2 separate regions of the Homo sapiens genome follow, and region 2 is linked to region 1. Evidence: fine-mapped expression QTL. Tissue or cell type: subcutaneous fat. Region 1 holds a variant in brackets; the other region holds the start of a gene. All regions are shown on one strand. Distances are from middle to middle.

The links. PIP is the estimated chance that this variant, and not a neighbour inherited with it, causes the effect.
Region 2: TP53I11 starts here. The variant in region 1 is fine-mapped to the expression of TP53I11 in subcutaneous fat (TwinsUK, PIP 0.95).

Annotation. Positions count from the first base shown.
Region 1 is chr11:45,053,474-45,061,576 of GRCh38, reverse strand. No RefSeq gene overlaps it. Among named protein-coding and RNA genes, the nearest start is that of LINC02685, 84 kb to the right of the region's middle. The variant C/T (reference allele first, on the strand shown) is at 3,075.
Region 2 is chr11:44,947,713-44,955,815 of GRCh38, reverse strand. It overlaps TP53I11 (tumor protein p53 inducible protein 11), which reads left to right and starts at 4,933. Exons shown (of 7, transcript NM_006034.5): 1 at 4,933-5,139. RefSeq lists silencers at 4,744-5,003, 5,034-5,163.

The DNA of each region.
Region 1 (8,103 bases):
GTCAAAAAGCTAAACAAAATTAAAAAGTTTATAGAGTAAAAATGTTATAGTAAGCTAAGCTTAATTTATTATTGAAGAAAGAAAAATATTTTGGTATAAATTTGGTCTAGCCTAAAGTGTTTATAAAGTCTACAGTAATGTAGAGTAATGTCCTAGGTCTTCACATTCACTCATTGATTCACCCAGAGCAACCTGCAGTTCTGCAAGCTCCATTCATGGTAAGTGCCTTACATAGGTGTACCACTTTTTATCTTTTATATCTTTTTTTTTTTTGAGACGGAGTTTCACTCTTGTTGCCCAGGCTGGAGTGCAATGGTGTGATCTTGGCTCACCACAACCTCAGCCTCCCCAGTTCAAGCTATTCTCCTGCCTCAGCCTCCCGAGTAGCTGGGATTATAGGCATGAGCCACCACACCCAGCTAATTTTGTAGTTTTAGTAGAGACGGGTTTCTCCATGTTGGTCAGGCTGGTCTCGAACTCCCGACCTTAGGTGTTTCGCCCGCCTTGGCCTCCCAAAGTGCTGGGATTAGAGACATGAGCCACTGCCCTGGCCTAGATCATATTTTTACTGTACCTTTTCCATATTTAGACACACAAATACTTACAATTGCATGCCAATTGCCTGCAGTATTCAGAACAGTAACCTGCTGTACAGGTTTGCAGCCTGGGAGCAACAGGCAATATCATATAGCCTAGGTGTGTAGTAGGCTGTACCATCTAGGTTTGTGTAAGTACACACTATAGCATTCACATAACGAGGAAGTCACCTAACGTTTCTCAGAACGTTGTATCCCTGTTGTTAAGTGGCATGTGACTGTACAGCATAAAGAACCCTTGTTTACAGTATGCGAAACTGAACCAAGAAGGCAGAGTGTCACCTTGTTTGGCTTCATCTGGAAATGTGCATGTTGCTCACAGATTTTTCACCGTCCTGGACATGTCTGCATGTCTGCAAATGACCAGGAAAGTGCCACGAGCATTGATTTTGGGGTTACAAATAAAATGTGATGAGCAGGTGAGTTTGCAAATATGGAACCTACTAATAATGAGGATTGATATATCTTCCCCAGCCCACTGCTCCATCCTTCCTCCAGCCACTGTCCTCTCTTACTTGGAGGAAGCCAGGGGTTGCCTGCCTTCCTTCCTCCTTTCCACCATTGACCCCTGACCCCATCACTCACTTTCCTCTTCACAGCCAGAGACTTGCTTGCTTGCTTCCTTGCTTTCTTTTCTCTCTTTCTTTCTTTCTTTCTTTCTTTCTTTCTTTCTGCCTTTCTTTCTTTCTTTCTTTCATTTCTTTCTTTCTTTCTTTCCTTCTTTCTTTCTTTCCTTCCTTCCTCCCTCCCTCCCTCCCTCCCTCCTTTCTTTCTTTCTTTGTCTCTCTCTTTCTTTTCTTTTTTTTTTTTTCCCAAGATCTTGCTTTGTCGCCCAGGCTGGAGTACAGTAGCATAATCTCGGCTCACTGCAACTTCCTCTGCCTCCCAGATTCAAGCAATTCTCTTGCCTCAACCTCCCGAGTAGCTGGGATTACAGGCGTGTGCCACCACACCCGGCTACTTTTTGTATTTTTAGTAGAGACAGGTTTTCATCATCTTGGCCAGGCAGGTCTCGAACTCCTGACCTCTGGTGATCCACCCGCCTCGGCCTCCCAAAATGCTGGGATTATTTGGGAGCACTTTGGCCTCCCAAAGTGCTGGGGTGGCATGAGCCACTGCGCCCGGCACAAGATTCCTCTCTCTAAAAGATGAAACCTTCTGCTTCTTTTCGGTTCCTCTCGGGACTGAGTCCAAACTGCTCCCAGTGGCCTGTAAGGCCCTCCTTGGCCTGTCCCTGTGGCCCTCTTGGCTAGAATCCCGTGTTCTCTCCCCTCACTTGCTCCTTCCAGCCGTGCTGGTCCCTTCATCCTTTCTCCAGCACACCAAGCCTGTCCCACCTCTGGGCTTTGCACCAGCGGTTCTCATCTCCTCATCCTTCAGGTCTCAGTTTGAAATTCCGCCTGCTCATATAGCTCCCCTTACTACCCCTAAATCATTCCATCTCTTCATCAGAGCCCCTGATGAGTTGCCTGCCTAGTTCATATGGATTCCAATGGAACAATCCTTCATGGCATTACTTGACGAGTGTTGCCATTGGACTGTAACGTCTTTAAGGCAAGTCGGTGTTGGATTTATTCACCTGTGGGTCTTGAGGTCTGGAGCAGCATCTCACACAGTAGGGTTCCATACAGACTTGTTGCTAAGTGTGTGAGCAACCCACAGCTGGAGTGGCCTGTTGGACTTCACTCCTTCAGCCCCATGGAAGCAGGAGCCTGTGTGCGTGGCCCAGGTCAGGAGAGCCACCACTCATCCTCCTTCACGAGGCTGCGTGTGCCTCCTGCAGGTGCCACTCCCACCGGGCTTGGCATCATCCCTGTGAGCTGCACATCACATGCCTTCTCCAGGCCCCCAGGAGGCGTGTATCTGATCAGAAATACTTGATAGCCAAGGCCTTTCCAGCCCCAGGGTCTTCTGGCCTTGCCTCAGAAACCAACCACCTCCCTGCAGGAAAATGCACCATTCTTAAATTTAGAACCCACAGGGCCTTGTGATCCCAAATAGCACATCCTTATAATCTTGAAACCTCAGAAATTCAAGGGCTCCCCTAAGGGAACTGACCACCCTTCTGGTCCTCTGAAAACCCCTTCTGGTAAGCACTACATTTTTGTAATTACAAAATAGCAGGATTTCAGGGTCCACCCAAGGACCTGACCACACTTCCAAGACCCGCTTTTGGGTAAACACCACATCCTTATGTTTACCAGGCCACGGACCCTCAAGGGCCCCACCCAGGAAGAGGGTCCCCTTGTTGGCCTGAGCTGCACTTTGGGTAAATGCCACATTCTTGGGAAGATCGTGTTCATGTAGCAACACAAAGAGATGTTTTTGGTATTATAGGGAATTTGAAATAAAAACAGGAAAGAAAACAAAATATCCTCATTGCCTATACCCTTGTCTGTAATTACAGGAAGACTTGGCCTACGCCCTGCCGAGTATGCAGAAATAGAATCAGTCCCAGAGGCATGATGGGTGATCCTG[C/T]TTTCTCTACTTCCTAAACTTTCTGTAATAGTGCTGCCTTTATGATAAAAACTGTGACAACAAAGAAAAAACAAGCTTTGTTCTCCCTGTGGAGTGATGAGGATGATTTATCAGAGTTTAACAGCCAAGTTACCTCTCTGCCCCAGGCCTGCTAACCTTCTGGAAAATCACTGAGATTGATCATCATTACCAAAATTCATGCCCCAGGTCCCAGAGTGGTGTGTGTTTACCCTGCATGTTATGGCTGAGGGCAAGGGTGGGTGCTTGGGTGAGAGAGGTATATCTATCTTGGAAGGGCACGCTACAATTAGGCAATTATGGTCTATTTCATAGCAGATGATGATGTCAGCCCTAGAAAAGGTTGCTGCCTGTTCTCTGGGGAGGCCCCATCACCCAGCAGCAACTGGAAGTGGGGAAGAGGGCTGCTCCCTAAGAGTGTATGAGGATGCTATTCCTGCGTTCAGGATCCAGGAGGTCTGAGCCCGGGCCCAGGGAGGGAGGCCCTAGAGCAGTGGTTCCCAACTGGAGTGATTCTCCTGTGCCCCCACCCCCAGGGACATTTGGTAATATCTAGAGACATTTTTGGTCCTCACAGCTGAAAAAGGGTGCCACTGGCATCTGGTGGGTAGAGGTCAAAGATGCTGCTGAACATCCTAAAATGCACGGGACAGACCCTCCACAGCAAAGAATTGTCCTGCTGAAAATGTCAATAGTATGCAGTGGAGAAATCCCAGCCTAGATTAAGGGAGGGCTTTGTCTCAACAAGTCAGGGTTTCAGGCAGCTGTTAAGGTCCTGATACAGAAGTGGGCCCAGCACCCATGGACGTGCTGCTGTCACAGCTGACACTGAGGAAGAAGGGAGCTGGAGAGGTCTCTTTGAAGGTGGTTCTACTTAAGGCTTCAGGGGCCCAGGCTTGTTAGGGCCTCCTAGTTTTGAATGACTCCCTTCACTCCATCCCCACCTCACCAGAGGGACCACGTGCCAGCCTCTGATTGTGCCAGCAGTTTCATCCTCTGTGCTTTTTGCATGCTGTTCCCCTGCTTTTCCCTTCCCCTATTTCTGACTATTAAAATTGAACCCATCCTTCCAGGTTTTGATACTACTTCCTCCATAAAGACTACCCTGATTTCCTCTACCTGCATCAATATCAGTAACTTCCTTTCCTTCATAGGATTGAGGTAGGGAATCACCTCCAAACTGGAGGAGAGGTGTGATGTTTATGATAAACGGCAATAACAGGACACCAGCCCGGTTGTATCCGAAGCCAAAGTCTGTGATTTTACCCATAGTATCTTCCTCGCCCCACAGCTAAGAGCACTGTACATTAATGATAATAACCAAATAATCATCACAAGTGAATATGGTAATAATAGCTAACAATTAGCAGGTACTGCATTCCAGGTACCGTGCTAAGTATTCTACAGGTATCTACGTATCCACTGTTGTCAACAACTTACTGGTCAGGACACTGGGGCTTCCAGGGAGAATGACTGTCCTGAGGTTCCCAGTCACTCTGACTCCTACATCCCTGGCCTACCGACTTTCCAGAAGCTGTCTATCCCATGTCAAGAACTCTGTGCCTGCAGCCAGGCCCCTGCCCCAGAAGTCCTTCACAAATTGCCTTGGACACACCATTGTGCCCCTGGCATGCCCAGTGTCACCCCCACAGGCTGAGCTCAGCTGATCTCTAATAAGCATCTCTGGGAGACAAAGGCAGCTGGAGCTCCTTGTTCAGGGCCCTGTTTGGGGGACAAAGACATGAGCTGATGCATTCTCTGTTCTCTTGTGCTAAATAATTGGCTTCAATTAAGTGGGCTGGCTGAAGTGAGGCGCCTGGAGGAGCAGGAATGTGGAACTTATGCAAATGGAGGTCTGAGGATGGGGAGCCAGGAGGAGGGGCTCCCAGGGGCCCCCAGGGATCCACCCTCCCCCCTGTACCCTGGGAAAGGGTCTTATCCTCTCTTGGTTCAGTTTCCTCCTCTGTAGAATGGAGAGAGGAAAGGAATTTCTGTCTGGGTTTCAAAGCCCTGGGGGTCCACAGAAGTCTGGGGTGGGCCAGGACCCAGGACAGACCCTTACAGAGTTCAGCTAGAATAGCTCCTTTCCTCTTTACCTGTTTAATGTGTTGGGCTGTTACCACCTGCTTTTTGTCCAGGGAATGTGAACATCAAAAAAGAGCTTAAAACCTCAAGACAGATTATATTTGGGCTCCATCCCAGCTCTAGTACTTTTCAAATCTCGCCTTGAGGTTTTGGGGTCTGATATGGTTTGGCTCTGTGCCCCTACCCAAATCTCATGTCAAATCGTAATTCCCAGTGTTGGGGCGGTGGGACCTGGTGGGAGGTGATTGGATCATGGGGGCAGATTTCCCCCATGCTGTTCTCGTGATAGTGAGTGAATTCTCACGAGATCTGGTGGTTTAAAAGTGTGTGGCACTTCCCCCCTCACTCTCTCTCTCTCCTGCCTGCCACCATGGGAAGAAGGTCCTTGCTTCCCTTTCTTCTTCTGCCATGACTGTAAGTTTCCTGAGGCCTCCCAGTCATGCGTCCTGTTAAGCCTGTGGAACTGTGAGTCAATTAAACCTCTTTTCTTTTATATATATATATAATATATATATTTTATTATGCTTTAAGTTCTAGGGTACATGTGCACAATGTGCAGGTTTGTTACATATGTATACATGTGCCATGTTGGTGTACCTCTTTTCTTCATAAATTACTCAGTCTCAGATCGTTCTTTATAGCTGTGTGAGAACAGACTAATACAGGGTCTTAGAGGAGAGGGGTGGCCCACCTGTCAGTGGGGAGAGGGAGTTGGTCCAGGTGGGTCTGATTGGCTCTGGCCATGCTCTGTGACCTTGAGCCAGGCCTTGGGTCTCTGAGCCCTGCTTTCTCCATCTGTGAAAAAGGAAATGATGACAATGGCAGCAGTGACAATCACATAACTGCCGACTTCTACCATGTGGCATCCACGTGCCCCAGGCTGAGCGCCTTATCTGAGCTCTATCATTTAAGCCAAAACCCTACGAGGCAGCTTGTCCATGCTCACTGATGGTTCTTTACCAGCTATTGAGCACTCCCTGTGTTCTTGGTGTGATGATTAAAAGAAACAACACGCACAATCCCTGCACTCATGGAGCTGACATTCTAGGGTGGAAACCAGCAATAAAAGCAATAACTATGCATCACAGAGGGAGATCCAGCTAGGCAGGGGTCTACTGAGTGTCGAGGTTGGGGTGGAATTTGCAGTCGGGAGGCAGTGAGACTGGAGCCCAGGTCTGGAGGAAGATGGCAGGCCGGGGAGCTGTGTGACACGGAGTGAAGTGCCCAGTGGAGGGACAGCCCCTGCAGAGCCTGTAAGGTGGGGTGTGCCCTCCAGGGGTGTTTGAAGAGCAGCCAGGGGATCAGTGTGACGATAGGGAGGGAACAGAGTGAGCGAGCGGGAGAGAAACAGAGGATGAGTCAGAGGTCCCAGGAGGTGAGCATGGAGGGCCCTGTGGATCAGGGCAGGGACCTGCGCATTTGCCTTGAGTGCAATGGAGCACCTTGGGGTAGTGAGGAGGTCCTTGGGACAGAAAAGCTACAAGCAGGGAGGCTCTGGAAGGAGGAGGGGAGGAAAAGAGAGATGTCAGCAGATTAGGGACACATTCTGATGTGAAATGCCCATTAGAATGGAATAGAATGGATTTTTTTTTTTTTTTTTTTTTTTTTTTTTTTTGAGATAAAGTCTTGCTCTGTTACCCGGGCTGGAGTGCAGTGGCACAATCTCAGCTCACTGCAACTTCCGCCTCCCAGGTTCAAGCGATTCTCCTGCCTCAGCCTCCTGAGTAGCTGGGATTACAGGTGTGTGCCACCACCCCCGGCTAATTTTTTTTTGTATTTTTAGTACAGTCGGGGTTTCACCATGTTGGTCAGGCTGGTCTCGAACTCCTGACCTCATGATCCGCCCAACTCGGCCTCCCAAAGTGCAGATGTCTACTATGCTGAGGGACAGGAGGGGACATCAGAGGAAGAAAGTTGCCAAGAGTCACTCCAGGTGTTGGACTGAGCGGCTGAAAGTGGGGGCTATTTCTTTCCATTTGTTGAGATGGGAAACACCGAGATGATGGCTGTGGAGGCATTGGATGTTAGGTGCCCATTAGTCATGGAAGTGGAGATCTCAGTAGGCTTGTAGGTCAGAGGGAAGGTCTGGGCTCGTATCCTCCCATGCATAAGCTGTATTTGCATTTGTGATCCCCGGGGATGTGAGTGCAGACAGCAGAGAAGCCCACGGAGCCCTGGGACCTCGGCGTTAGAAGCCAGCAGGTGAGGTGGAATCAACAGAGGATGGGGTGATCTGTCAGCCAGCAGGCCAGAGGAAAACCAGGAATGTAGAGTCCCCATGACAGGAGTAGGCGGGGGCTGCAGGGGCAACCAACTGGTGATCAGAGCCAGGGAGATGAAGCCGGCGAAATGACAGTGGATTTAGCAACATGGACCACTGGTGACCCTGACGAGAGTGTTTTTGTGGAATCGTGGGGACAAAATCCTCCTGAAGTAGGTTCGAGAGGGAACAGGAGGCGAGGAAATGGAGGCCGCCTGCTTCCCAGATGCCACCTGGCAACTCTTCAAGGAATTTTCCTATAAAGGGCACAGGGAAAGATCGGTGTGTCAGGGGAGCTGACCTGAGGAAGGTTTTCTGGTTATTCCCCAGTTTTAAGATGGGCACAATTAGAACAGGTTTGTATGCTGTGGAGGGTGATCCAGGATGGAGGAAGAATTCAATGCAGGAGGAAGAATTCAATGCAGGAGGGAGAGAGGAAAAAACCCTGGAGTGGGTGTGAGGGGCTGGCATGTAAGGCTCAAATGAAGGGCTGTCCTTGAGTAGGCTACAGAAGAAGAGACTGAGGCCAGAGAGGTGAAGTGCCCAAGGTCCCACAGGTAACCAGGGCAGAACGGGGATTGAATCCAAAACTCTGACACCAGAGTGCAATTCTGTCCCCCCTGAGATGCTAAGGCCTTGCCTCCCTGCTCAGGGATGGGCCCTGAG
Region 2 (8,103 bases), 110 kb after region 1:
CCCAGCTGGTGGAGGGTGGATTTCTTGCAGATGGCCACATGCACACAGCTCACCGCCATTTCCACATGTCCATTCATTAATTGAGTCAATGAACATTCATTGAGAACTGACTGTGAGCTCCGGACTCACATGTACTATCTCACTTAACCCCCCAGGTACCCTATGCATCATCATGATTTTCTTCTTTCCATTTGGCAGATGAACACGCTGAGGCTCAGAGACACTGAGTTACTTGCCTAAGGCCACAGAGCCGGTTAGAAGAGGACTAGGACCTTGAACCTAAATCCAGGATGGTTCTAGTGGCTAAATCCCACTCTCATACTGCCTCCTTGAGCCCTCCCCCACAGGAAGCAGGAAAGGGCTGGCCATGGTCTTCTGGTCCCCTAGCTGTCATACACTTTCTTTGGGGAGATCTGAGCCTCATTTCTTCCACCCCCATCCTGATCAGTTCTCTCTCCCACAGATAAGAAACTGCTTGACATTTCCTGGTCCTGGTGTAGCAACAGAGGTGGTGGGGATGAGTCACTGGAGGGAAGCAGCTGGCAGTTGTGTGGGGTCGGGGAAGGAGGGCTGGTCAGTGCTCACTCTGGAGGGGTGGGGGCAGGAAGCACTGGGGAGGCCTGCCTGGGAGTTCCTGAGCTCCCAGCTGCTCCTTCCAGTCCCCAAAGCTATGTGTAACAGAGTTCTCCTCACCAGGCAGGTTCACAGAGAACGAAGCTCTGGAGGAAATGAGAGGAAACCAGGAAGGGGAACCAGAAGCAGTTGTGAAAGCCCAGCTCTCTGCCTCAGTCCTTGTGTTGTGGGATGGCGGCTCCTTCTCTCTGGGTTTTGTGCCAGCTTCAATGAACCCTGGCTAGACAACTCTCACCCCAGAGCTCCCTGTTCCAGTTGAGAATGCACCAGCACTCCTGAGGCCCTCTCCCTCCGCTCCTCCCAGGCTGCCGCATAATAACACCAGTGGCACTGATTGATAACTGTCGATGTGCCTGCCCCATGTTAAGGGCTTCACGTGCAGCCTCTCTGCTAAACCTCCAATAACTCCCACCAGGTAGGCCCTGTTATTATCACCATTTTACAGATGAGCAAACTGAGGCCTAGAGAAGTGAAATCACTGGCCCATGGTCCCATAACCAGGACTTGAACCCAGATCTGTCAGGTCCAAAATCCCTGGGCTCAACCACAACAGGTCTCTGACAACATCATGTTCCTCCACACGTGCCCATCAGTGCTGAAACCTTTCCCCTGGCCCCAACCCCAAAGACTAGGCCCAACCCCCGCTCCGCAGGCCTCTCTCCTGCAGTCCCAGGTGATAACAGTAGTCTCACTCCAAGCATCTTTGAAATCCAATTACATCCCCATTCTTCCTCGTCCATAGTGGTTTCTGGCTGCAGACACTGGCAATCCCTGTGCCCACCACACCTTCCTGCAGGGGCACAAACACAGACACACAGGCGCACTCTTAAGTGCTCACTCACACCTGGCCACCAAGGAGGTGTTGCTGCCCCTGCTTGTGGAGGGCGACCAGGGCAGATGGAGCCCCTGCTGCTCCCAGGTTCCTGTGGGAGTCTGGAGGAGTGACCCTCCCACCCCTGCAACAGCCGCTGGCTGCTTCCTGGCTCCATCCCCAACCCCACTCCCATCCCCACCCCCCTGGGGCCTTGAGAGGAACACTTCACCAAGGTAAGAATCACAATAATAATGTCAATAATAGGAATCAGCATTTCCAGTTTGCAAACCTTTTTCATCGAATCACCTCACTTGACTCTCACAAGTTCTATGAGGCAGATATTTTTATATCCGTGCAGGCGAGGGTCGTATAGCTACTTAGGAGCAGAGCCAAGGTCCTAGCCGACTTATCTCACTCTCACCTAGAATAATGATGACTCCTCATTGTTACCGTGCACCAAGCATCTATTCTTGCCTGTCGTTAGGGGCACACTTAATGAATGTCAATGTTACTCCTCACAGCAGCCCAGTGAGGTGAGTTTTTTTTTTATGCCCAGTGTAAAGATCAGGTAACTCAGAAGAGTTGAGGGCAGAATGGCTGCCTAAGGGATGTTTCTGAACTGGACACATCACTTTAGAAAAGTATATAGGGGCCGGGCGCGGTGGCTCACGCCTGTAATCCCCGCACTTTGGGAGGCCGAGGCGGGCGGATCATGAGGTCAGGAGATCGAGACTATCCTGACTAACATGGTGAAACCCCGACTCTACTAAAAATACAAAAAATTAGCCGGGTGTGGTCGTGGGTGCCTGTAGTCCCAGCTACTCGGGAGGCTGAGGCAGGAGAATGGCATGGACCCAGGAGGCGGAGCTTGCAGTGAGCCGAGATCACGCCACTGCACTCCAGCCTGGGCGACAGAACGAGACTCCATCTCAAAATAAATAAATAAGTAAATAAATAAATGAAAAGTATATAGGGAGGAAGACAATAAGAGCCTCTAATGGGTGCTTTCTGGAGAGCGGATGCAGGGGGTTATGGATAGAGCCAGCTGCTTCTCCCCTGGTCCCCCTCCAAGCACTTTGCCTGTTATCTTGAGCGGTTACTGTTGCTGCTGTTGACTATCTGTGCAGTCATCTACAAGGGGGCTGTGAACTCTCCAAGGACAGGGACACTGTCCTGTTCACCCCTGGGGCCCCAGCACATAGCACCTTGCCTGGCATAAGGGTGAGGCACTGTCAGGATGGCCTCGTTCACAAAGGATGGTGGGGCAGCCTTGGCCCAGCCTGAGCTCCCAGCCTCCCCAGCTTCCCCGTTGATAAGGAGACTGAGAGAATACAGACACCCAGAGGGCAAAGGTTATCCACTCCAAATACCACTTAAGGTGGGAATTCTTCCTCTGCTGTCCTCATCAACCCTTCCCTGGATTCTGCTTGCATGCTGCTAGTGACAGGGCACTCATTCATGACAACTAAGGCAGCCTCTTCCATGTTGGAAAACTTGGAGTGATTGTGACAAAGGCCTCCCACTGATGTATGATCAGGCTGGCTGGGATTACAAGCACAGACCCTGCTGCTAGTCTTTAGGGTTACACCAAGCAGAGCACTGGCAGGTGTCCCCAAGTCTGGGAGGACATTGCACATGAATGACGCTGGGGGCCCTCCCTTCAGCAATCCAGAGCCCTGAGTGCCAGAAAGGCAGAAGAGGGAGTGACAAATGAATTCATCAACCCAGCTTGGCCCAGCTCTGTAAAGGCAGTGAGGTGAGACTGAGTTGTTGCAGAAATTACTATAGAGCCTTGAGTCAGATGGCTCCACCCAACACACCTTAAAAATAATCCTCATCTAGAGTCACATACTTTGATTGATTGATTGATTCATTCATTATTGGCTATCACTGTCTAGGTGTTTGGCTGGGGGCAGTGTCAGTGGCACTGGGGCATCAGAGTTTATCTACCTTAGTAATCAGGACAGTTTATATTCACTGAGCACTTACTATGAACCAAGGACTGTTCTGTTTACTTCCTTGCCAAGGGCACAGACTCTCCTGCCCAATCCCAGCTCTGGTGAGGACAGTGGGAGCCTGCATGGCACAGAGTCCATGCACAGTAAACATGAGCAGCTCCTATTAACTCTAAATCTCTACAGCAACCATAGCCGGTTCTTACTATTGGTTGCTCTAGGTGACTTACTTTGTCCAAGGCCACACAGGCACTAAAAGGCAGAGTCAGGATTTGAACCTAGGTGATCTGGTTCCAGAGCCTGCTCTATTAACCGTTAAGGAACTGGTGCAGACAGAACCGAGACCTGGAGTCAGAATGCCCACCTAGCTAGATGCCTGAGGCAGCCACTCACCTCTTTCTGTCTTATTTACTTGTGAAATGGAGCATGTCATCAGCCTTGCCTTCCTTTTCCCGCAGCCCCCCACCCCGGTTCCTGGCCCACTGTGACCATCAGATCAGATGAAAGAGATCCAGGCATTTCTCTAAGGAGAGCACAGGGTGGTGGGGGTTGGGGTGGGAGAGAGCACATTATTTTCCCACCATAAGGGGTTGAAGGAGCCCAGAATTTGGGGGTGGGGCCTTGTCTGTAGGAGCCTGGTTCTCTCAGGTTGACACGCCACCAGAGAGCCTCCATGACCCCCAACCCTCATCCTCACCCCAGCCCCCCATAGGATGTGTAGAGACAAAAGGTTTGACAACTGTAGCGCCAACAAGCGTCCTAGAGCCCCAGATAAGATCCTAGCCTCCTGACAGCGCAACTGACAGCAGCATCTCTGAGGCTGGATTTTAGGGTGGAGTATGAAGAAGGTGGCCGTAGTGACAGTGGGGTCATGTTATTTGGCCAAGTCACACCAAGCAGGGAGAGAGAAGGGTGGGCCTAGGCTGGAAGCCTGAAGGCTGAGTGAACTCAAACTTTAACGACCATGGCCTGTAAAATGGGACTAAGCACAGCGCCCTTATGGGTTGCTGTGAAAATCAAATGAGTTAATACTTGTAACTCCTTTAGCATATGGTGTCTGGCATCAGAGAGTGCGCAGCAAACGGTGACTATTGTCGTGACTGTGTTATTACACACTTGGGTATCACCGCCAGCCAAAGCAGTCCCTTCCATTTCAGGCACCGGCCTGGGCCCGGGAGACACCGCAAGGCTATTTAAGATGGTGTGGTTTGCCCATCTACGTTGATCGTCCCAAGAAAGGGGCACCGTCTGCAGAACTTGCCAGGAAAGTCATCCTGGGCGGCGCGGGCCACGCCAGGGTCTCCCCGCGCGGCTTCCTCCCCCGGCGCCTTCTCTCGGGCGCGCGTGCGCCCCCTGCAGGCGGCCCCCGGGAGAGCCTCGCGGGGGAGCCGGGAGCCTGGTTTCCCCGCCAACCCCCATCCCGCCCGCCCCGGCGGCCACCCTGGGGGCGAGGCAGCCCGGCGCGTGGGAGGGGACGGCGCGCCATTGGCTTGTGCGCGGAACCGAGAGGAGGGACCAGCGCGGGCCGCCAGACTCGGTAAGCCCCGGCCGCGCAGGGCGCCGCGCGCAGTCCAGCCGGCCCGGCCCTGCCCTGCCCTGCCCTGTCCTGCCCTGCCCTGCCCTGCCCTGCCCTGCACTGCCCGGCCCGGCACGGGCGGCGCGATGTGAGGCGTCCGAGCCCGGAGCCTCCGCCTGGCATCAGCTCCACGTAGCCCAGCGCCGGCACGCGCGAGGCCCGTAAGTTCTGCTCCCCGCCGCCGCTTCCGAGCCGCGGACTTTCCCCTCCCGCCGCCCGCCGCCTGCGCAGCGCAACCCAGCGGGGCTCCTGCGGCCGACGGGACCGCAGAGGGGCGGCCGGGACCCCGCGCGCGCTAACCGGGCGCCCCGGGACATCTCGGCACCCGCTGAGCCCGCTGGGACCCCAGGGGGTCGCCTCCCCAGCTCCCCAAGGCGCCGTCCCGCAGCCCCTTCCGTCTCCCCTGCGCGCTCTCCCCTCGCCGCCCCTCCCTCTGACTCGGTTTCCCCTCTCCCCCGGCTCCGCGGTCGCCCTCCTCCTGGACTGCTTATTTCGTCCTCGGCCACTGCCTCTCGGGCTCGAGCTTTCTGCTTCAGAGCAGGAGAGAAACGGAGCGAAAGCAGTTTCTGTCTCCCCGGGGTCTGACTCGGTCCCCCGCGCTCGGTTCTCTGTCCCCTCCCCCTCCCGCCATTGTTCCCGGCAGGAGGAGTGCGCGGCGCAAACTTGCGAGTTCCCCCAGTCTTTGCCCCCGCAGGGCCGCGGACGGAGGTGGTGGCGGAGTTCCCGCTGCCCACAAGTCTGGCCCGACCTTCTGGGGTGGGGGCCTGGGGGCAGGGGCCCTGGGCCGGAGAACCCGGGGCCGCCTAACGGCTCGGAGCTCACCGCCGGGGGACACCGGCGCTGAGGCCTGGGTCTCAGAAAGTGGGTGAGTGTCTGGAGCGGGGACATCAGGGACAGATTGCAGGGGGAGGGGCGAGGCTGAGAGAGTCCCCCGTCCCCAGGCTGGAAAGGGGCGGGCAGAAACCCAGGCCGCGCCTTAGCCCAGTTAGGGGGTGGGTAGGGGACGCACAGGTGGAGACGCCCCCCACTCTCCCCAAAGTCGCGCGATCTGCAGGAAGGGTACAGTGTGGGGCCACTGGCCGGGCGCTGGGTGGGTTAGGGCCCCTGCCGTGGGCAGAACACTCGCACCTACCCGGGGGAGGCTGTGTGGAGGAAGGGCCAGAACGCCGCGCCCACCCCGGCGCGCCCCGCTGGGCGGGGCGGGGCGGGGCGCTCGCCTTGGGTCCCCTCGCTCTACCTTCCTTCGCCCTGACCCAGTCTCGGGCTTCCGCCTCTTCCTGGAGCCCGGGGGGAGTGGGTTTCTCCGCCGGAGAGATGGAGGCTGGGGCAAGAGCAGCGCGGAGGCCAAGAACCCCCAGGCTCCTCCAAAGCCCAGAGCGGCTGGCCAAGGCCCCCTCACCGCCCCACTACCCTGCACTTCCTGATTGGTTTCTTTCAAACAAACTTCTTGACGGGGCGGGCCTGCGGGGAGAAGTCACCGGGGCTGCCCACCCCAACTATGTGGTCCCTTGGACCTCCACCCCTGACGGCCTGTGGAGAGGGGACCAGGATCTGCGGCCCGCAGATCCCAGGGACGCGGGGGTCGTTTTGTTGCAGAGCCAGGAGGGGGCACTGTCCGCTCCTTAGCCTCAGCCCCAGACTTCGAGAAAGGAGAGAAAAGATTTTTCTTGTTGGGTTGTTAGGAAATAAGACTATTCTCCAGGCTTCTGTTGTCCCATCTGTAAAATGGGTCGTCTTGTTCCTGAGGCCCCCTCTGTCCCCACCATCCCAGGAGGCCCCTGCCATGGCCGCTTCTTTCCCAGTCACATGTCGTCAACTTCCTCCGTGCTTCCAAATTTGGAGTGGAGGGCTAAGGCCGAAAGCCCCTTCACCCATGTCCAGCTGTCATGACCTGCCAGTTCTAGGACTGCGACCTATTTTCTGCACAGCTCTGCCTCCAGGCCCCTTGTGGCTTCTCCAGCTCACACCCAGCCTCCCAATTTCTTTTGATAGCCCCACCTCTGTGGGAAGAAGGGCCTGCCCCTCTTGGGGTATGGGGGAGGAGGGGGCTGGATTTAACAGGAATGCCCCATAGTCACACAGTTTGGGGCTGTTCTTTACTTTTGCTTATTGAACAAAATGTTTGTGAGCATTACACCAAAAATGGCTTATGGAGCAAAGTGCCAGGGACAGTTTCAGGCACTGGGGAGACAGCTGTGGACAAAATAAAAATTTTTGTCCTCATGGAGCTGATGCTTAAAAGCAGGGGGCAGGGGGAGGCAATTCCCTAATAAAAACAATAAGCAAATTATATAGTGTACTGAGAGGTGAAGGGGAAAAGTTGTGTTGGGGGTATTGAGGCCAGGGACCGGGTTGTCATTTTAAATAGGGTGTCAGGGAGGTCTCCCTGAGGAGGTAACTTTTGAGCTACAGCCTTGAGGGAGATGAGGGAGTGAGCTGTGTAGACAGCTAGAGCACAGCCCATGCAAAGGCCCTGAGGCTGGAATGTGCCTACCCTGCAGCTAGCAGGGAGTGAGGGGCTGAGGAAGAGTGAGTGACTGAGAAGGGATGAATTCCTCCCCTTTCACAGGTGAGGGAAGTGAGGCTCAGAGACAGTATGTCAGTCACCCCAGGACACACAGGCCAGGAGAGGCAGCTGCAGGGCGGGGTGCCTGATGTTCTGACTCCTGGTCCACGATACCTCCCCGGCACCCTGTGTCTCACTGTTTATCCTGCTACACTGGCTGGACCCCTCCCAGGGCCAGCGCAGCATCGTCCTCCTGCCCCAAAGTGACCCTTGCTCTCTCTCATCCCACTTCCTTCCTATGACCAGTCCCTTCTGAGCACCCAACTCTGACCTGGCACATGATCCCTAGAAGGGGACCTGCTCTGAGGCAGATTTGGTCAAGGGGGCAACTGAGGCAAGGAAGTAGAGTCTTCTAGTCTAAAAATAATGAGCAGCATTATTATTGAACATTAACTACAAAACAGGCGCTGTTCTGGATTTTTTTGGTGCATCTTCTCACTGGTGAGAGGTTGGTGTCATTATTACACCCCATTTAACAGATGAGGAAACTGAGGCCCAGGGAGGCAGAGTCACTGGCCCAAAGGCATACAGCTCATCAGTGGTAGAGCCAGGATGGAGC